Linked DNA regions of Homo sapiens. The protein of the gene in region 2 purifies or fractionates together with the protein of the main gene of each other region. This does not show direct contact. Each region holds a gene or a part of one and is shown on either strand. Other genes may lie near its edges.

The links. Proteins that work in one complex are often made in the same cells at the same time.
Region 1: the proteins of PDIA6 (region 2) and ZHX3 purify together in Homo sapiens (affinity purification with mass spectrometry; 3 studies listed by BioGRID and IntAct, with this or other methods). This does not show direct contact.
Region 3: the proteins of PDIA6 (region 2) and PLS1 purify together in Homo sapiens (affinity purification with mass spectrometry; 3 studies listed by BioGRID and IntAct, with this or other methods). This does not show direct contact.

Annotation. Positions count from the first base shown.
Region 1 is NC_000020.11:41,314,720-41,322,643, reverse strand, and holds the start of ZHX3 (zinc fingers and homeoboxes protein 3), read left to right. Parts: upstream 1-4,912; 5' UTR 4,913-5,135; exon of another isoform or gene 5,136-5,782; intron 5,783-7,924. UniProt on the Homo sapiens protein: Acts as a transcriptional repressor. Involved in the early stages of mesenchymal stem cell (MSC) osteogenic differentiation. Is a regulator of podocyte gene expression during primary glomerula disease. Binds to promoter DNA.
Region 2 is NC_000002.12:10,782,891-10,788,808, reverse strand, and holds the end of PDIA6 (protein disulfide-isomerase A6 isoform d precursor), read left to right. Parts: intron 1-39; coding exon 40-112; intron 113-1,369; coding exon 1,370-1,528; intron 1,529-3,698; exon of another isoform or gene 3,699-3,778; coding exon 3,779-3,875; exon of another isoform or gene 3,876-4,482; coding exon 4,483-4,551; 3' UTR 4,552-5,418; downstream 5,419-5,918. UniProt on the Homo sapiens protein: May function as a chaperone that inhibits aggregation of misfolded proteins. Negatively regulates the unfolded protein response (UPR) through binding to UPR sensors such as ERN1, which in turn inactivates ERN1 signaling.
Region 3 is NC_000003.12:142,599,382-142,606,404, reverse strand, and holds part of PLS1 (plastin-1), read right to left. Parts: intron 5,878-7,023; exon of another isoform or gene 5,659-5,877; intron 1-5,658. UniProt on the Homo sapiens protein: Actin-bundling protein. In the inner ear, it is required for stereocilia formation. Mediates liquid packing of actin filaments that is necessary for stereocilia to grow to their proper dimensions.

The DNA.
Region 1 (7,924 bases), on a different chromosome or scaffold from region 2:
TGCCCAGTTTGTCTCAAACTCCTGCCCTCAAGCAATCCTCCCACCACGGCCTTCCGAAGTGTTGGGATTACAGGTATGAGCCACTGTGCCTAGCCAAATAAAAGCATTTAAAAACTAAATTTAGTGTAAGTATGGCCGGGCATAGTGGTTCACTCCTGTAATTCCAGCACTATGGAAGACCGAGGCAGGCAGATCACTTGAGGCCAGGAGTCTGAGACCAGTCTGGGCAACATATTGAGACGCTGTCTCTACTAAAAATATAAAAAATTAGCTTGGCATGGTGGTGCACACCTGTGATCCCAGCTCCTAGGGAGACTGAGGCACGAGAATTGCTTAAACCCAGGAGGCAGAGGTTGCAGTGAGCCGAGATGGCGCCATTGCACTCCAGCCTCAGCAACAGAGCGAGACTCTGTCTCAAGAAAAAAAATTTAGCAGTAAGTGTATAGTGTGTATACAGTCTACAGTGGCATACAGTAATTTACTAGGTCTGCACATTCCCTCACAACTCCCTCACTGACTCACCCAGAGCAACTTCCAGTCCTGCAAGCTCCATTCATAAGTGCCCTGTACAAGTGTACCATTTTAAAATATTTTATACCCTACTTTTACTGTACCTTTTCTATGTTTAGATATGTTTAGATACACAGATGTATACCACCGTGTTATAACTGCCTACAATATTCAGTACTGTAACATGCTGTACAGGTTTGTAACCGAGGAGCAATAGGTTATACCATATAGCCTCAGTATGGTAGGCTTTACCGTCTAAGTTGTGTAAGTACACTGCATGATGTTTGCACAATGAAGCAATAACCTAATCACACATTTCTCAGAACATATCCCTGTCATTAAGCAATGTGTGACTGTACTTCTACTCACATTTTATTGACCAAAGAAAGTCACATGGCTATTCACAAATCCAAGCTATTGTAAGGAAGTACAATCCTATCATGTGCCTACAGAGGTCTTATGGAGAGCATCCCAGTTTTTGTCCCCTTTTTTGCTGGGAAAAAAACAGCTTTCAGGCCAGGCATGGTGGCTCATGCCTGTAATCCCAGCACTTTGGGAGGCCAAGGCTGGTGGATTGCCTGAGGTCAGGAGTTCGAGACCAGCCTGGCCAACATGGCAAAACCCCATCTCTACTAAAAATACAAAAGTTAGCCAGGCGTGGTGGTGCACGCCTGTAATCCCAGCTACTTGAGATGTTGAGGCAGGAGAATCACTTGAACCTGGGAGGCAGAGGTTGCAGTGAGCCAAGACCATGTCATTGCACTCCAGCCTGGGTGACAGAGCAAGACACAGTCTCAAAACAAAACAACAAAAAAAAAACAACTTTTTTTTTTATTGCCACTTAAAAAAGGCCTCCCTACTATGCAGAAATCAAGAACTCAACAATTGTTTCCTGTGTCACTACCAAATGTTTCCCAGGGGTTTTGCCACTATGTGGAACCAGCAGTTCTGTGAGGGACTTCTTTCAAGATACCGCCTCAGCTAGAAACAATTTCCCTTTTCCTGGTAATTGGCCATTTCTTGATTCACAGAGGTGGCTTCCTGGTGAACTTCATGCCTGTAAGCTGGCATGACTGTTCTGGAGGAGAGTACCTACCACAAGTTGGGTCAGTTAGAGCCTTTTCTACATGATTTTGTGATTAGAATGATTAGGGAGTTTTAGTCTCTGGGTAGTTGGAATTGTATCTCATACTTGGGAGAGGTTGGTAGACACATTTCCCATTGTATTATTAATACCTGGAGGCAGAGAAAACAAGTTTGCTGGAGTCATACTGGCTCCCCTTACTCTGCTTCCAGCCCATCCAAAATCCCAGCTAATTATTTCCCTTGGCCTCTGTGAGATCCATCCCACCCAAAGCCTAAAGATAAAGTCCCCTTTTATTTTCCTTGAATTGGTCTGATGGGTTTCTGGTCCTTGCAGCCAGCAAACTTCAGATAGTTCTTTGCCTCTGGACCCTGGCACAAAAAGTTCACAGGTGTAGCCCATTCCAATAAAACAGAGGTCAGGTGGTAACTATTGCATTAACTATACTAGCAGTTTCCTTACTGCTTGAGAAAGCTCATTAGAATGTGAGTGCAAATGACATTATTATAGGGATTACCTGAAATCTGCTTAATTTTTTTTAAAGGAAAGTAATATGCCTCTGTGTGTAAATATCATTTGTGACATACCCCCCAACACTGGTATTAAATGGCTGTTTCTTCTGCCTGGAATCTCTGTCTCAACAACTCTTTAGATGTGGCCCCAAAGTCACCTTTTCTGGGAAGCCTACCCACACTCTCCTGTATATTGTTAATTATGCTATTCTCTGTGCTTCCCAAAGCAGTTGGCACATCCATCTTTGTTACATATTTTCTCCCAGAAGTTTTTTGTTTGTTTGTTTTTGAGACAGAGTTTCGCTCTTGTTGCCCAGGCTGGAGTGTAATGCTGCAAACTCGCTCACTGCAACCTGTGCTTCCCGGGTTCAAGTGATTCTCCTGCCTCAGCCTCCCAAGTAGCTGGGATTACAGGTGCGCCTCACTATGCCTGGCTAATTTTTGTATTTTGAGTAGAGATGGGGTTTCACCATGTTGGTCAGGCTGGTCTCGAACTCCTGACCTCAGATGATTCATCCACCTAAGCCTCCCAAAGTGCTGGGATTACAGGCGTGAGCCACTGTGCCCGGCCAGAAGTATTTTTTTTACATGACTGTTTCCTCTGAAATACTGTTCCTCAAAGGTCGGGAGAATACCTCATTTTTCTCAGGATCCCACTGTGCCTGGATCAAAATAGATGCTCAGAAAAGTTTGTTGAATAAATGAAGTTGTATTGGAGCAGTATAACCTATATACATTCTCATTCATCCCAGAAATACTTATTGAGTACCTGAACATGTCGACCCATGTTCTAGATGTTGAAGATGGGAAAAACAAAGTTCCCACCTTCAGAGATATTATAGATGATATTCAGGTTAGAAGGGCTAGGCAGAAAAGTAAAGCAGGCTTAGAGGATAGTGATTGGAGTTGGGACTTGATACTTTAGTAGAGTGGTCTGGGAAAGTCTGGGGAGGTGACTTTTGAGTAGAAACTTGGAAAGCACACGCCTTTCTGATATCTGGAGGAAGCAACACCAAGTACAGAGGTTCTGAAGTAGAAGTGAGCCTCCATATTCCAGGAGCAAGAAGGAGGCTAGTGTGCCTGGCATGCAATGAGGAGGCCGAGTGGAAGGAGGTGCAGTTAGAGAGGTGGAGAGTATAAGTGGACGAAGGGCAGACACATAGGATCTTGGAAGCCTTTGGGAAAAAAACCACATTTTGGAAATGAAAAAAATAGGTGGGCATGGTGGCGTGCACCTGTAGTCCTAGCTACCTGGGAGGCTGAGGTGGGAGGATTGCTTGAGTTTGGGAGGTTGAGGCTGCAGTGAGCTGTGATGGGGCCACTGCACTCTAACCTGGGAGACAGAGTGAGACTGTGTCCCACTCTCCACCCCACTGCCCCCATATTTTTTTTTTTTTGGCTTTTACTCTGAGATGGGAAACCTTCTGGGGGCTTTTGAGCTTAGGTTTCAACAGGATCCCTCTGGCTTCTGTGTTGAGAGAAGGCACCATGAGAGCACAGTGGAATCGTGGAGAACAGGCAGGAGGCTACTACAATATTCCAGGAAAGAGGAAAAGGGGTATTTTAAAGGTAGAGCTGACAGGCTTTTCTAATGGGTTGCATGTGGGATATGATAGGGAGAGTGGAGTCCAGGATGACTCCAATGGTTTGTCTGGAGTCATCAGAAGAATGGAGTTGACATGAACTGAGGTAGGGAAGGTTGTGAAAGGAGCAAGCTAAGGTGCCACGTATGGGTGTTTGACTATCGACTTGTTTACTTGGACACATCGCTCACACTTGTGTATATGCTCCCTGGTTTTCAGGATCTGAAGGTTCTAAAGTTACTTGAAGTTAAAGGCAGCCTTACTTATTGAACACCAAGCACTGTGCAGAAATCTTTATATGTGGTGTCATTTAACCCTTTTAATATTTCTACTGATTTACTCATGTTTCATTGCCCTTTTACAGTTGAGAGATTAACACGTCCAAAGTCACTCAGACAATTATTAACCTGCTAGATTAATGCAGATCTGGGATTCCCATCCAGGTGTGTCAAGACCGTAGAGCTCCTGCTGTTTACTAATCACTGGATTCTAAAGGTGGGAGCCACTTTCTGAGCATATTTGCTGCAGACTTGGTTCCATAACTAAAAAGGTGCCTGGATCATGTGACGAGAATTCAGGAAAGAACCCAACCCCATCCCAGGCATTACAGGTTATACAACAGCTATGAAGAAAGGACGGTATTAGTGGACTCGAGGAGGCTGACTGATGTTTGAAAGTTCAAGTACTTGAAGACTCAATGTTAAAACAGTGATCAAGAGTTAGTTTTTTTGTTATTATTCTTAAGAAAACAGAAAATATTAAAAATTGCAGTGAACCCTTGGTTGGATAAAAGACCACTCCTAGTCGACGCTTGTTGGGAAACACTGGAATTGGAGGAGTGGGGGCAGACAGGAGCGAGAGCCCCTGCCAGCCTACACACACATCCTTTTGAAAGTGTAACCTGGTGTGACCTTCTTTAAGTGGTCCTCTGGAAAGAGCAGGATATGGAGTACAAAAGCCAGGAACCTCTGGGACCGCAGCATCCGCCCCCAGCGCCTCCTTCCCCGTCTTCTTCAGCCTCCACACGGTGGGGCGGGGAGGAGGGGGGAGGAGGAGTGCTGGCGCATGCGCCGGGGGCAAGGTCCGCTCCCCGCGACGTCAGGGGGCTCGCACCCGCTCGAAAGCCCCGCCCCGCGGCCGCCAGAGGCGACCTGGGCGGACTGGGGGGCCTGGGCCACGCCCCCAGCCGAGTCGAGCAAGGCCGAGGGGAGCCGTGCAAGGCCGAGCAGAGCCGAGCGCCTCCGAGAGCGGCCGAGCCCAGCCGAGCGGCCCGGAGTCGGTTGGTGCAGCTGCGTCCCCGCCGCTCAGCAGTCCGCGGCTCCGGCGTCGCCGCCGCCGCCGCCTCTGCGGGGCCTGCGCCGGCCGCCCGCCCGGCCGCGGGGAGGGAGGCCCGCAGCGCGGGAAGAGCGGCCCGGTCGCGGGCGCCGCCACCGCCGCCGCTGCCAGGTGAGCGCCCGCCACGGCCAGCCGGCCCCGCGTGCCCCCGCGGCTGTCAGTCCCCGGTGTCTGTATCTCTCTCTGCCTGTCAGACCCTGTGTCTGCGCGAGCTCCTTCCCGCCACGCCTGGCCCGCGGCCGGCCCGCAGTCTCAGTCAGCCCCCTCCCGCCGGCTGCCCCTGGTCTTTCTGTCAGCCGCCAGCACCCCCATGCTGAGAGGCTCCGCCCCTTCCCCCCGGAGCCCCGCCCTCCGCCATCTGTCATCACCCCCCGGGCTCCAGGAGCGGGCGTCCAGGGGTCCTAGGGGTCAGGGTAGCCCCGCGTGCCACCATCGTAGAAGGCGCAAAAGGGGGTGGTAGAGGGGAAGCGGGGGCGTTCGCGCAGGCCCGCCTGACCGTGTGAGAGTGCATGCCCGAGTGTGCGTTCCGCGTGTGCACCCGAGAGCCGCCTGCGTCCACGCCCGAGGGCCCTTGCACTCTGCTGGGATGTGGCAGCCCATGCCCCCGGTGTAAAGAGCGTCAGCTCGACCAGTGAAGGCGGCAGAGCCAGGACTCGAACCACTCGGGGTACAGTAGCACCCTGAATCTTGGGACCCTTGTCTGCCCACGCGAAAACACTACACGTGGGCCCCAGGTCCTCGGATTCCCTGAGTGGCGTGTGAGTGGAGTTTGGAGCTTGTTAAGCCTTCCCAGTTTGGGATTTTCATTCAGGGAAGCCTGTTGGAAGTGATTGAGGAGTGGATGGGATGTAGGACTTAGGTGGGGAGTGTTTGAGGGCTTGAGTCATTTTGAGTTGCATGGTTTACATTTCTGAGCAGTGATTGCCCTGGGCTTGTGCCCTGCGAGAAACTTATGTGACTTGGGGTGGGGGAGTGAGGTAGGAAGGAATGCTCCTTTCTGTTTTTATCTATGTGAACACATAGTATATATTTATCCAGATATCCTAAATGTTTATTCATGAGGCGTCCACACGTCCTTAATTTAAAAAAGGATTACAGTAGTTTCCATTTATACACGTTCTTGTGTGTTGTTATCTCAATGCTCTTTATTTGTGGTAACTTAGTATTGCAATATTTCAAAACTAAGAGAAAATGCATCCTAAAACAATTGGTATTTTGCCGGATAATTCTGAACCACGGAGAAGGAGCCAAAAGCGCACTTCATTAGCTGGAACAACTTATTCGAGCTTAATTTGTTTCTAAGAGACATACAGTGGAAAAATCCAGAAGCGCAAAATAGTATCAAAGACACATAGAAAATGAATGAAAAGGGCCCTTCTGTTGCTGCCTTGGAAAGATGGTATCAAAGTTGCTGTAGAGGACAGAGCCACTATGTAATGATCAACATATTAACCAAGTTGGTTTTGTGACCTTGATACATTGAGCGGGGCTTGATTTGTGCAGTGGTTCATGACAGGCAAACATTGCATGGGAAGTGTGGTAATTTTTGGAAAAAAATGTTCCCCATGTTGTTTTGGTTTTTGGTTTTGAGTTTGTTTTTTTTTTTTTCATATTGAAGTAAGATTTCAGACAAGGGAAGTCTCATGGTGGAGTGCTTTTTTCTTTTTAAAGATAACATTAAAAATTACCAAAGTAATTCATGTTTAAGGCAGAAAACTTGAAAAACAAAGAAAAGCATTGCAAACAAAACAAAACAAAAAAAACCCCATAATCCCACAAACCATAGTAAATCACAATTTGGTATTAAGCCTTTTAGCCTTGTTCCCATGTATACGTGTTTTTTCTTACAAAAATGCTATCATACTACACAACTTTTATTCTATGCTTTTTTTCTTTGACTTATAACTAGATTATGAGAGATACATCTTTGTTTTATGAGTAGGAACTTGTGTTTCTCTTTGCAATCCTTTAAAAAATTCAGATCATGTTAGTCCTCTGCTTAGAGCCCTCCAATAGCTTTTTGTCTTAAAGTAAACTCTGAAGGCCTTGCTGTGGCCTGCCAGGCTAACCCTCTTCCGAACAACCATCCTCACTTCGAGCCTTGCCAGACAGATCTCTTTGCTGTTTCTTAAAAACATCAAGCTTACACTTGTAATCACAGCACTTTGGGAGGCCGAGGCGGGCGGATCACGAGGTCAGGAGTTCGAGACCAGCCCGGCCAGCATGGTGACACCCCGTCTCTACTAAAAAAAAAAAAAAAAAAAAAAAAAAAAGCCAGGCCTGGTGGTGCGTGCCTGTAATCCCAGCTACTCAGGAGGCTGAGGCAGGAGAATTGCTTGAACCCGGGATGCGGAGGTTGCATTGAGCCAAGATCACACCACCGCACTCCAGCCTGGGAGACAGAGCGAGACTCTGTCTCAAAAAAGTCAAGCATACTCCAGCCTCAGTGCCTTTGCATTTGCTGTTCCCTCCGCCTAGAACTCTGGTCCCTGGATATTAACATAGTTGACTCCCTTACTTCAGGTCTCTGCTCAAAAGTTAGGTTGTCTGGCTTTGCTTGACTGCATTATCAAATACACCCCATTTCCCTGTTGTTCTTATCCTGCCTTGCTTACCACCACTTGGTAATACATATTTATTTGTTGGTGTATTGTCTCTCTCCCTCATTAACCCTGAAGTGTGAGACTTTTTTTTCACCGATATATCCTCAGGGCTCAGAAACTGCACCTGGCCCATTGTGGGTACTTAATATTTGTTGAATGAATGAAGGAAAGAATGAATGCTCATTATCCATCTATTCATATGACCTTGCTGGTAGCCTTCTAGGCTTCTAGGTAGCTGTGTCATGAGTTAAAATGACAATCTCTTAAAGGTCAGGATATTTCTTTCTCATCTATATC
Region 2 (5,918 bases):
TTATCTTTACCTTTAAAAAACTTTGTCTATTTAAATCAGGAGCTGCAGGCAGAAATTCTTATCTGGAAGTTCTTCTGAAGTTGGCAGACAAATACAAAAAGAAAATGTGGGGGTAAGTTACTGAGCTTACTGTCTGAGTGTCATCTGAACAGCTGATTATAGGCTTTCTTGAGAGTGGTTCCCCCGTGTTTTTGTAAGCTGTGTTCTATGTTTGCTCTGCTATATGTTTTTTTTTTTTTTCCCTCCTGCCTCAGCCTCCCAAGTAGCTGGGATTATAGGCGCCCGCCACCACACCCAGCTAATTTTTGTATTTTTAGTAGGGTCAGGGTTTCACCATGTTGTCTAGGCTGGTCTCAAAACTCCTGACCTCAAGTGATCCACCTGCCTCCACCTCCCAAAGTCCTGGGATTACAGGTGTAAGCCACCGCACCCGGCCTGCTCTGCTATATGTTTTTATTCAGGATGTGAAAACTTTATCATGGGAGGAAAAGAAGGAATGAAGGGCTGTCAGCACAGCATGCATTTTTCTCATAGGAATCATGTTTTACATGGTGATTGGAGTGCCAGGTTAGCAGGCAGACACATAAGGAGTAGTGCACCTGAATTCTACTGTGAACTTGAAGGCTGGGTGAGAAAGGGGAAATAGAATTGTTTCCTTCTCCTCTTCTGAGTTAAGGACTGGATCTAGGCACATTTTCAAAACAGTGTATCTCTTTCCTATTTTATCCTTTTTTTTTTTTTTTGAGACAGAGTCTCACTCTCTTGCCCAGGGTGGAGTGCAGTGGCACAATCTCGGCTTACTGCAACCTCCGCCTCCCGGGTTCAAAAGATCCTCCTGCCTTAGCCTCCTGCGTAGCTGGGACTACAGGCGCACGCCACCATGCCCGGCTAATTTTTGTGATTTTAGTAGAGATGGGGTTTGCACCATATTGGTCAGGCTGGTCTCGAACTCCTGACCTCAGGTGATCCACCTATCTTGGCCTCCCAAAGTGCTGGGATCACAGGCGTGAGCCACCGTGCCCAGCCTCCTTCCTATTTATCTTTTTGCTTCTTGTCCTCAGTATCCATTGCTTTCCCCAGGTACCTAGCGCCCCCTGTTGTCCCTCTCTCGATGACCTTGCTCCTCCTCCATTAGTCCAGCAAATGTTTATTAGATGCCTACAGAACGCGAGAACATGCTTAATAACCCAAATGATATTGGTGGGATTTCAGGTAAAAAGGGAAAATCCATATAGAAACTCATCTTTTGTTTTTATTTGTCATTCTACGAAATATCTGAAGCGTGATCTTTTGTTCTCTAAGATCTTCTAGTTAGATCGTAAGCAATTTAAAAGACATATTTGCCCTAAAAACCAGTCTGGTTTTCTAGGTGGCTGTGGACAGAAGCTGGAGCCCAGTCTGAACTTGAGACCGCGTTGGGGATTGGAGGGTTTGGGTACCCCGCCATGGCCGCCATCAATGCACGCAAGATGAAATTTGCTCTGCTAAAAGGCTCCTTCAGTGAGCAAGGCATCAACGAGTTTCTCAGGTAATTTGTTTTCTTAGGTTGTTTGTTGTTTTGTCTGTTTGTTTGGTTCTGTTGTAGGTTTATATTTGGAACTAGGTATATATAAGCCAGGTAATAAATGGAATTTAAAATGCAAACTAATTCCAGAGAATTGAATGTTTATACATTAGAGTTTTTAAATTGTCTCCCTGTTCGTTCTTTTTTCCATGGAATACTCTGCTTGCGGGATGAGGAGAAAGCATTGCTACCCTCGGGCCGCCCTGTGTGCCATTCTGTGCATCTGGCCCTGGGCTCTTTCTCATTCTCATAAAGGTCTCATATGGGCTAGAGGCAGCCCTGTCTGTCCATCCTCACCCTCATATGCATTGTAATCTTGACCTTGGGGAAATGTGGTTTCCATTTCTGGGCACTTGGCTTTGGAATGTAGTTATTTATTTGAAAATGGGCGTACTTAAGTTACTCCAACAATGTGCAAACAACATGATAGGTTCTAAAACCAATATACAGAGCTGTCTACTCTGCTCTGCTATTCAGCTCACCTAATCATCTTTTAGGCAATACAGGGCATTGACCTAAAGAGGTTTTATTTCCCATTCTTGCTTTCTTCCGCGTTCATTTCTTAGCTGCTGTATAAGAGATGTTCAGCACACAAAAGGTAGTTGAGAGGCTTGTGTTGAATAATGAATAGGAAGAACAGTACATGAAAGCCTGCAGTGCTCTTGCTGCCAGTCTTCCTACTTGACACAGAAGTTTGTGTGCTGTGTGGAGACGTGTGTGTGTGCTGTGTGGAGAGTAGGGGCTCCAAAGTCAGGTGCCTCAGTCACAGCTCTGCCTTGAGTAGTGAAGTGGGAGGCATGGAGGAAGCCCTGTGAGATCAGCTGCTTCAGCCTCTGCCGGCGGGGGGCAGACTGTGGCTCCTTCCCTCCCAGCTCTCTCTCATTGTAGTTGGTTAATATGGTTAATGGGTGTTTTCTTTCCCCCCCACCCCCGAGACAGAGTCTTGCTGTGTCGTCCGGGCTGGCACGATCTCGGCTCACTGCAACCTCCACCTCCCGGGTTCAAGTGATTCTCCTGCCTCAGCCTCCTGAGTAGCTGGGATTACAGGCGCCTGCCACCACGCCCAGCTAATTTTTGTATTTTTAGTAGAGATGGGTTTTCACCAGGTTGGCCAGGCGGGTCTCAAACCCCTGACCTCAAGTGATCCACCCACCTCAGCCTCCCAAAATGCTGGGATTACAGGTGTGAGCCACCACGCCTGGCCAAGGGGGTGTTTTCATTAAGTTTGTGGGGCTGGGTGCGGTGGCTCACGCCTGTAATTCCAACACTTTGGGAGTCTGAGGCAGGCGGATCACTTGAGGCCAGGAGTTCGAGACCAGGCTGGCCACCACGGTGAGACCTTATGTCTACTAAAAATACAAAAAATAGGCCAGGTGTGGTGTTGTAGGCCTGCAGTCCTAGCTACTAGGGAGGCTGAGGCACACCCAGGAGGTGGACGTTGCAGTGAGCTGAGATCACACCACTGCACTCCAGCCTGGGCAAAAGAGTGTGACTTGGTCTCAAAGAAAAAGAAGTTTGTGGACTGCTTAAGTTTGTGATTGTCATAGAGTAGTATTTATTAAATCATGAAGTCAGAATGTGAATATATCTCCTGTAATTTTTTTTTCTAATAATAGGTTTGCTTATTCTAGCCCATTGGTGCCATAGATTGTTAGTCTAGCTCTATTATTCTATGAGTTGTTTGGTGAACTCTAAATATTTGTGCCCACAGTATTTCTGGCTCTGGTTTCCCAACAGCCAGATTACACCAGGTCTGGTATGTTTCAAGTACTGATGTTTATGCACATACGCACCCCGCTCTCTGCCAGCGCACTGGAACCAGTCGCCTCACTTCTGATATGCTCCCTCTGTACAGGTTCACAGCAGTCTTAGAAAGCTCGCAGGCAGCCCATGTTCTAGATCAACTTTGATAATTATTTATGTATTTAATTTGTATTTCAGCAAATGCTCTGCTATTTTTAAAAGCTTACTGATAGCAACTGACTTTATCTGATGCAGGGGGCTTAGTTGGGAATGTTGAATCTGGTTGTAATGTTGTCCGTGATTAAAAAGATAATGTCCTCAAGGTGTTTCTGAGGAATGTAGTGCAGCAAGAGAGAAGAAATGCCTCTGCATAAACAAAGTAGGCAGACTGTTATTTTTAAAGTTGTTTATTCTTCTGCACCAGCAGTCCATTGTAAATGTGTGTGTGTGTTTTGGTCATTTTTCCCTAAGGGAGCTCTCTTTTGGGCGTGGCTCCACGGCACCTGTAGGAGGCGGGGCTTTCCCTACCATCGTTGAGAGAGAGCCTTGGGACGGCAGGGATGGCGAGGTGAGTGCCCGGGAGGGAAGCTGTGCGGGCAGCAGTCCTGGTTTACTCTCTTGAGCCTGTGCATCTCTGCACCTGGAGTCAAGTCCTTCCCATCAGACCTCAGCCCTGGTGCACCCGTGGGCCTTTTAAGAGGTTCTTCTCTGAAGACCCTTCATCTTCCTTATCACAAGTTTAAGTGCTGCATGGCATTTGATACTCTTGACAGCCAAGATACATTTCAGTAGTAAGGTTGCTTTCCTGATTATTACCTTAAAGTGAACATTTAACCTGGAATTCATTTACTTTATCTTAGAAAAATAGAAAATGATAGCTTTGAAATTAGCACTTATTTCTGTACTGTTGTGTCCCACCCTCCTCAAAAGGACACGTTCAAGTGGCTTCCAGTGTTAAAATGGTGAGTGATGTGATGTTGAAATGTTTCACCTGAGTTCTGAGCTTTTCCATCCGTATAATCATAGGTACGAAGGTCAGGGTAGGAGTCAGACTGAGGAGAACCTGGATTGTAGCAGGAGTAGCTCCAGAGAGTCGCTCTTCCATAAAATGAGATGTTGACCTTCCAGGGTGTCCCCTTCTGCAGATCTAACAGTGGCTTTCTGTCGTCTCCCAGCTTCCCGTGGAGGATGACATTGACCTCAGTGATGTGGAGCTTGATGACTTAGGGAAAGATGAGTTGTGAGAGCCACAACAGAGGCTTCAGACCATTTTCTTTTCTTGGGAGCCAGTGGATTTTTCCAGCAGTGAAGGGACATTCTCTACACTCAGATGACTCTACCAGTGGCCTTTTAACCAAGAAGTAGTACTTGATTGGTCATTTGAAAACACTGCAACAGTGAACTTTTGCATCTCAAGAAAACATTGAAAAATTCTATGAATTGTTGTAGCCGGTGAATTGAGTCGTATTCTGTCACATAATATTTTGAAGAAAACTTGGCTGTCGAAACATTTTTCTCTCTGACTGCTGCTTGAATGTTCTTGGAGGCTGTTTCTTATGTATGGGTTTTTTTTAATGTGATCCCTTCATTTGAATATTAATGGCTTTTTCCATTAAAGAATAAAATATTTTGGACAATGCCGATAAATGTATGAAGTTAGTATCCACATCATAAATTCAGAGTGATGTTTAGCAGTAAATCAATATTTTGAAGTGATACACAGATGTCTTTCCTCCCCACAAACTTTTTTAAACAAAAAACAAGACCTCTTTTCTTTAGATGGTGCCACCTATGCCCACCACAACAGAGATTTTACATGGAAACCGGGCTCAGTGAGAACTGATTTCCTGCCCAATATTTGTCTTTGGGCTGTCTCTAGTGACTAATTATTAAGGAATCTAGCTGGTTATACAGTTCAAGGCTTTCTATGTTGTTAATGAACCTCAAAATAGCCGTTAAGACATGAAATACAGCAGCAGGTTACCAATGCGAACAGGTAGTTCGCATTTATGTAAAACATTCAGAAAATGAAGTTTTGAATTTGTTGGAACATTCAAAGGACTTGAGAGCATTTTATTGTAACTTAAAAAAATAAATACAACTGTCACTAACTTTTGTGAGCAATTTCTCTGAAAAAGATCTTAGTTCTGTAAGACATTTGAACCATTCTCTGGCTAAAGGAAAGAGGTGTCTGTAATAATCTGCACGAACATGAGACAGAGGTGCCAGCTGGCCTTTCTAGTCAAGAAGACTAAGGTCAATATGGAAGTAGACATAAGGAAAATAGTCTTGGTTATTGAGTTGCAGTCCCGGGATCTCCACAGATGCCTACAAAAGAAGACATGGTAATGCTCTAAGTGCATAAACTAGTTTCCTGTCTTATCCTTTTAGTTTTGAGGAAGCTCGCCAGGCACTGAGCGTACGTTCTGCTCTGCGTAGCTGTGGTCCACCCCTCCAACCCTCTCCTTGCTGTGCTTTAATGTGTATGACATGTAGATTTTCATAACAGGCTGACAGATAGTTTTGCTTTGTTTTGTTTTTGAGACAGTTTCTGTCACCCAGGCTGGACTCAGCTCACTGCCTGCCTCAGACTCCCAAGTAGCTGGGATTA
Region 3 (7,023 bases), on a different chromosome or scaffold from region 2:
TATTCAAAGTGAAGATTTTGACAACGTGTGGTTGATATGAAACCTTTAATTTCTCTGAGAAGTCCCGCTGCTTGCTTTAGTAATACCCTTAATGCCTCAGGACATAACATACTCAAAAAAAAACTGTGCATAAAGAAGTTCTAAATGAATCTTGGTATCCTTTCTAGATTAAATGAGCAACATGCACATCACAAGGTCTTCCTTAAGTGTGCCTGAGATGTGAAATAGCATGCAGACTATTCCCACTGATATTTAATAATACATTAACATGCAAAAATGGGTATCATTGTGTACCCTTTTGTACAATGTTTCAGGATTCAGTTATTTCCTCTGAATTACTAGAAAATTACAATGTTTTGGGTTCTCCCATTATTTATTGTCCTAGTGGTATGAGAAATGCTTATAGTAACCTTGCAGAAATACTTCAATTAAGGCTTAGTCTCCCACAGAACAATATATATCACATAGGGAGAATATAACTTTGTAAAATATTTAGAAAGTTTAATCTTTTATCCTACACATTCCAGATGTACATTAGCAGGAAGTATAAGTTTTAAAACAAAACTACTTTGTTCAAGATGAAAGAGATGGATATTTTCCCATGTTAATCAACTCTTATTTCAAGAACTCATTTTAATGTTAATATGCTCCATAGTTGAGGGTTAGCCATAAAATACATTTAGACTTTTATAAAAATTGCACATAAATTTCATAGAGGAATTATTTCATATGGTCAGTAACAGAAGAAAATATGAATTGACTGCAAGAGCACTAGATTTGGAGCTAGACTGAAGTCCCATGAGGTCAGGAGTTCGAGATCAGCCTGGACAACATGGAGAAACCATGTCTCTACTAGAAATACAAAAATTAGCTGGGCATGGTGGCACATGCCTGTAACCCCAGCTACTGGGGAGGATGAAGCAGGAGAATCACTTGAACCCGGGAGGCGAAAGGTTGCAGTGAGCCAAGATTGTGCCCCTCACTCCAGCCTGAGCAACGGAGCAAGACTCTGTCTCAAAAAAATTAACCCTGACATTTTTTCAAATGTTGAAATTATAAGACACAGTTATGAGTTTAATTTCTGGCAGTTTCAAATCAGGCAACCTCCAGCAGGCAAGTCATTCTCTAAGTCTTGGCCACTTATCAGTGAAAGGAAGTAAAATCAGAAAGCTTTTTTAAACATCAATAAATGCCTTTCCTCTATCTTGTAGTTGACTAGTTACTTTCACATCCACTATCTTGTTTAATTATCAAACCTACAGCTGAAGAGAAGGCCTTCCTTCTCATGGGGTCAGAAACAGAATCACAGACTTTGACTTCTCATCCATGGTTCTGATCATAGGCCAACTGGTTTCAGGTATCTAAACTTTAAATTGCCCTAAGACTCATTTTAATTGACCACTAAACATTCAGAGATTTTCAGATTTCCTTTTTCCACTGATAATAATCTTGAATTTTTTTTTTTTTTTGAGACGGAGTCTTGCTCTGCTGCCCAGGCTGGAGATGCAGTGCCGTGATCTCAGCTCACTGCAAGCTCTGCCTCCCGGGTTCACGCCATTCTCCTGCCTCAGTCTCCTGAGTAGCTGGGACTACAGGCACCCACCACCACGCCTGGCTAATTATTTGTATTTTTTAGTAGAGACGGGGTTTCACCATGTTAGCCAGGATGGTCTCAATATCCTGACCTCGTGATCCGCCTGCCTCGGCCTCCCAAAGTGCTGGGATTACAGGCGTGAGCCACTGCACCTGGCCAATAATCTTGAATTTAATTTGGCTATTTGAGGATAAGAAAGGGATCAAGCAAATTGCTATTATTGTTGTTTTTCCAAAATCAACTCACTTCCATGACAACTTCTGATGAAAAACATTGGGTTTTGGTGAGCTGTGTTTCACAGATGGCACCTCACTGACCTGATTAACACTTAAAATTCCAATAACTAGGTCACTCTTAGAAACATTTCCTTGACCAAAAGGATGTCCCAATGATCTTAAACCTGGGGAGAGGGGAAGGAAAAGGGAGACCGCCAGGAAAGAATTCAGAGTGCTCTCCAGGAAGAGACAGCAGGAGTCTTTGAGAGGTTTTGGTTTATTTACAAAGATTATAAATACTAACTTGATATCAACCTAGAGATTCTACTTGTCTAAACCTTTCCCCCTCTTTTATTCATTCCAAGCAGCCCTTGGTCCAAGGTGTAATTAACAAGACCGATCCTTCCACACACATTTACCAGTGTCTTAAATTCAAATCCAAATTCTATTTTGGCAGTACTGCTAAAATCTCTTATTTCTTAGTTCTCAAAAAAATTGAAGGAGCTTTTGTCATTTTTTTAATATAAACATCTTCTTTCTTGAAACTGGATCTATAAACAATTTAATGTATTGTGTTCCTCAATAATAGAGTAAATCTGATTTCTGCTAATATTTTGGGTCAGTGACACCCCAAAACCTTTTGCTTTTTATCATGAAGAAGCCCCTCAGACACCTTCTACCTTACTAATGTCTCCATCCAATTTACTATCAAGAAAAGACAGTTTCTCCTTTTTTTTTGTGGTCAGCTTGGATCTTTTGAAGGAGGCATGTCTGTGTGCAGTGAGTTATCACCCAGATGTTCTTGTAGGTATTTTTTTTTTTTTTTGAGGCAGGGTTTCACTTTGTCACCCAGGCTAAAGTGCAGTGGCACAATCTCAGGTCACTGCAGCCTCAATCTCCTGGGCTCAAAATGATCCTCCCACCTCAGCCTAAGTAACTGGGACTACAGGCACGCGCCACCATGCCCAGATAATTTTTTTGTAGAGACGATGTTTTGCCATGTTGCCCAGGCTGGTGTTGAACTCTTGAGCTCAAGCGATCCACCTGCCTCAGCCTCCCAAAGTGCTGGGATTATAGGCGTGAGCCACCATGCCCAGCCAGTCTCGTAGTTTTATAGCTGTGAATTGCTCACAAAAGTCAATCATAAAATTTAGTTTATCGTAAAGTCTGAAGTCCCTTCACCACTGGACTTTATGAACAAAGCTATGTCTAACTCTGCTAGGAAATATTTTCTGATGAAACAAGTGTTTTAAGTAAGAAAAAACTCTCCCAATCATCTAACTCCTCACCCTTTCTGTGCCCACAATATTACTATAATAAAAAGCAACGTGCCTTTACAGAAGCCATGCTACATATGTCTCACCAAAAACGGCACATAGGCACTTTCAGACACAGTGCTAAAAAGAAATCAGATGATCAAAGTTGAACAGCCTCACATCTCATGTGACCTTACATGTCAGCAAAGTTTCCAGCAATCAAAATTGTATAACCATTTTATAACCAATAAACCCGTATGCAGCACAAATGTCTCTTTCTCCCCGACGTTCATCATCAGCCAGAGTAAAATGTTAATTCGGAACTGGATGAAGTGACAAGCTTTTGAATGTTGAGAGAATGAGGGCCAGAGGTGGCCTCAGCCTCAACACTTTGGGAGGCTGAGGCGGGCGAGTCACTTGAGGTCAGGAGTTGGCGACCAGCCTGGCCAACATGGTGAAACCCCGACTCTACTAAAAATACAAAAATTAGCCCGGTGAAGCCAGAAGCTGCGGCCCTGCCTTTCATATCCTGGGAACACAGAACCACTCAGGGGAAGGTAAAGCAGAACCAGGAAATGGAAAGAGAGCTCAGGCAGCAAGGGAGGGAAGCACGCTCTCAGCTGAGTTCCATTTTGAGACTCCCAGGAGAGTAAGTTCTCTATGTAATTAGGTTCATCAAGAGGAGGGAGAGGAGCACATTTTCTCACAGGTCAAAGCTGGGGCCTATGGGGTGGGGGGGGCCTTTAAATTATTTGTCTTTGACCTGGGGCCTTTCCTGAGGTATCCACACCCACCTCCAATTAGTCCACAGGGACTTCACAACTCCCCAATCTTAAAAATTGGGGGAGAATGTGTTCACACCTGGATTCTTCCTGGGGGTTTATGGCCATAGTTCAAAGGCCTAAGATTAGAGTCATGATCCATAGATATTCCAGGAGCTTCCAGCAGTGGATCCTGACACCCCAGGGAAAGAAATCCTTATACCTGGTCACTCCAGAGTTCTTAGGCTCCTACACAAGGTGAGCTTCCCAGTTTCCCATTGCCAACTCCACAGACACGCCCTGGATGACCACCAACTCACTCCCCAATCACAGCTCCACCCCAAAAGAGGGTGGGAGCAGATCAGAAGTGGCTTTAATGGTGTACCCAGAGAAAAAGCTGCTGTCCCTTTCTCTAGGAATGCTTCAAGAGAAAAGGAGATAAAGACTAAGTGGAATGAAAAAAAAAAAAAACCGGAACGATTTACCACTGTTGTTTTGGTTTTTTTAAATGTGGCTCAAAGAATGTTGGTGGTTCCACCAGCTGAAACCTGTGGCTATTCTAAGCATCTGTTAGAGTTACCTCAGAAAGAGCTTTGCATTTTTGTTAAGATATTTGATTAAGTTATTTGAGCGCTCAGTGTATAAAGTCAGATAGGCCTGGGGTCAAATCTCAGCTCAGCCACTTGTAAACTATATGACCTCAGATAAATGCTTTTATCTATCTCTCTAAGCCTCAATTTTCTCATCTAGAAAATGAGGGTAGGTCAGGTGCAGTGGTTCATGCCTGTAATCTCAGGGCTTCGGGAAGCTGAGGTGGGAGGATTGCTTGAGGCTAAAAGTTTGAGATCAGCCTAGACAACATAGCAAGACCTTATCACTATAAAAAAATTTTTTTTAATAAGCCGGGCACGTTGGTCCACACCTGGGAGGCTGAGGCGGGAGGACTGCTTGAGCCCAGGAGTTCAAGGTTACAGTGAGTTATGACTGTGCCATTCCACTCCAGATTGGGTGACAGACTGAAACCCTGTTTTTAAAAAATAAAAATTAAAAATAAATGAGTAATTGTTGCACCTATCTCACAGGATGGTTTATAAAGATGAAATGATATATTACTTGTATTTAGTATAGTGCCTGGTTCATGGAAGATATTCTGTAATACTAGTTACTAATATTACTATTATTATTTTAAGAAAGATATTTGTCATTTTACAAAGGGCCATGGTAAATTCTAGGATTTAATATTTGGACATTTAAGTGTATGAGACATTAACTTCAACATACTACCTGATTTTGCATCTGCCTAATCAATTTTCACTAACGTCATCATGAAAAACATATATATATAAAAAATATAGGCCGGGCGCGGTGGCTCATGCTTGTAATCCCAGCACTTTGGGAGGCCAAGGCGGGCGGATCACGAGGTCAGGAGATCGAGACCATCCTGGCTAACACAGTGAAACCCCGTCTCTACTAAAAATAAAAAAAAAATTAGCCGGGCGTGGTGGCGGGTGCCTGTAGTCCCAGCTACTCGGGAGGCTGAGGCAGGAGAATGGCGTGAACCCGGGAGGCGGAGCTTGCAGTGAGCCGAGATTGCGCCACTGCACTCCCGCCTGGGCCACAGAGCGAGACTCCGTCTCAAAAAAAAAAAAAAAAAAAAAAAAATATATATATATATATATATATATATATATATATATATATGAAACCAGGCCAACCCTTCCCTTCCCCACTGCTAGCCATTTCTCAAGCTCATTTGTTCTGTCTCTCCTCTCAACTGCTCTCTCTCTCCTTGACATTTTTAATGGACCATCGTTGCCTGTGGAAATATGAAGATGGTGGTCAACCACAGTGTGCAAGTCAATGGCAAGGATGTGGCATCCAACAGCTCCCTCATCGCTGTGTGCAGCTCAATGGAAAGGCTGTGTTTTGATTTGCAAAATGGCTATGATTTGCAAAATGCAACATCTGTTCCAAGTAAACAAATATTCCAAACCACCTCTTGAACTGGAAGTTTGGATTCAGCAGCACTGCTTTCTGTCTTGTTTTTCCAGGTAGAATCTGATCACAATTGTCTCTCTCTCAGCCTTACCTCACCCCCATGTTCTTGGGTCATAAACACCACCCTTTGGTGCCACCCTCCTGGCCTACCCTCACTGCACCTGGCCTACCCTCTCCAAAGCCATTGCTCACCACCTCCTGGTAGTGTACAATATATCTAGGAAATAGACTCTCAGTCCCAAGGACTTTGGGCCAACCCATTTGTGTCTGCCTCTGACAAGCTAAGCTACCATGACCTTTCCAGACTTCAACTCCCCAGTGTGAAGATTCCTAGGACCCCAGCCTCACTCCCTCCTCACTGTGTACACTCAACCTTGAACTGGCCAGCAGCCTTGTGTTTCACCTCTTCCGATGACACACACATTCTCTCATCGACCACCAAATTTCCCCCTTAGATTGGTTTCTGAGGGCTTTCAGTCCACAGAACATCTTGAACTGGAGTGTCTTGCTACCAACTCAAATTAATCTTGGGAGGCTGAGCATGGTGGCTCAGGCCTGTAATCCTAACACATTGGGAGGCTGAGGCAGGCCAAAGAATTCAAGACCAGCCTGGGAAAAATAGTGAGACCCCATCTCTAAACACAAAAAAATACAAAATTAGCCACGCATGGTGGCACGTGCCTGTGGCCACAGCTACTTGGGAGGCTGAGGTGGGAAGGATCACTTGAGCCCGGGGAGGTCAAGGCTGCAGTGAGCAGTGATCGTGCCACTGCACTCCAGCCTGGGTGACAGAGTGGGACCCTGTCTCAAAAAATAAATAAATAAATAAAAATAATCGTGGGGCCAACAACCTCAAAAAGTAATAGTTAATGAAAAGAGCTTGGGTCTAGTAATGAGGAAATTTGAACAGAGCTTCTGGCTATCCCACTAACTAGCTTAGTTAAGAATATCTGGCCGGGCGCGGTGGCTCACGCCTGTAATCCCAGCACTTTGGGAGGCCGAGGCGGGTGGATCATGAGGTCAGGAGATCGAGACCATCCTGGCTAACAAGGTGAAACCCCGTCTCTACTAAAAATACAAAAAATTAGCCGGGCGCGGTGGCGGGCGCCTGTAGTCCCAGCTACTCGGGAGGCTGAGGCAGGAGAATGGCGTGAACCTGGGAAGCGGAGCTTGCAGTGAGCCGAGATTGCGCCACTGCA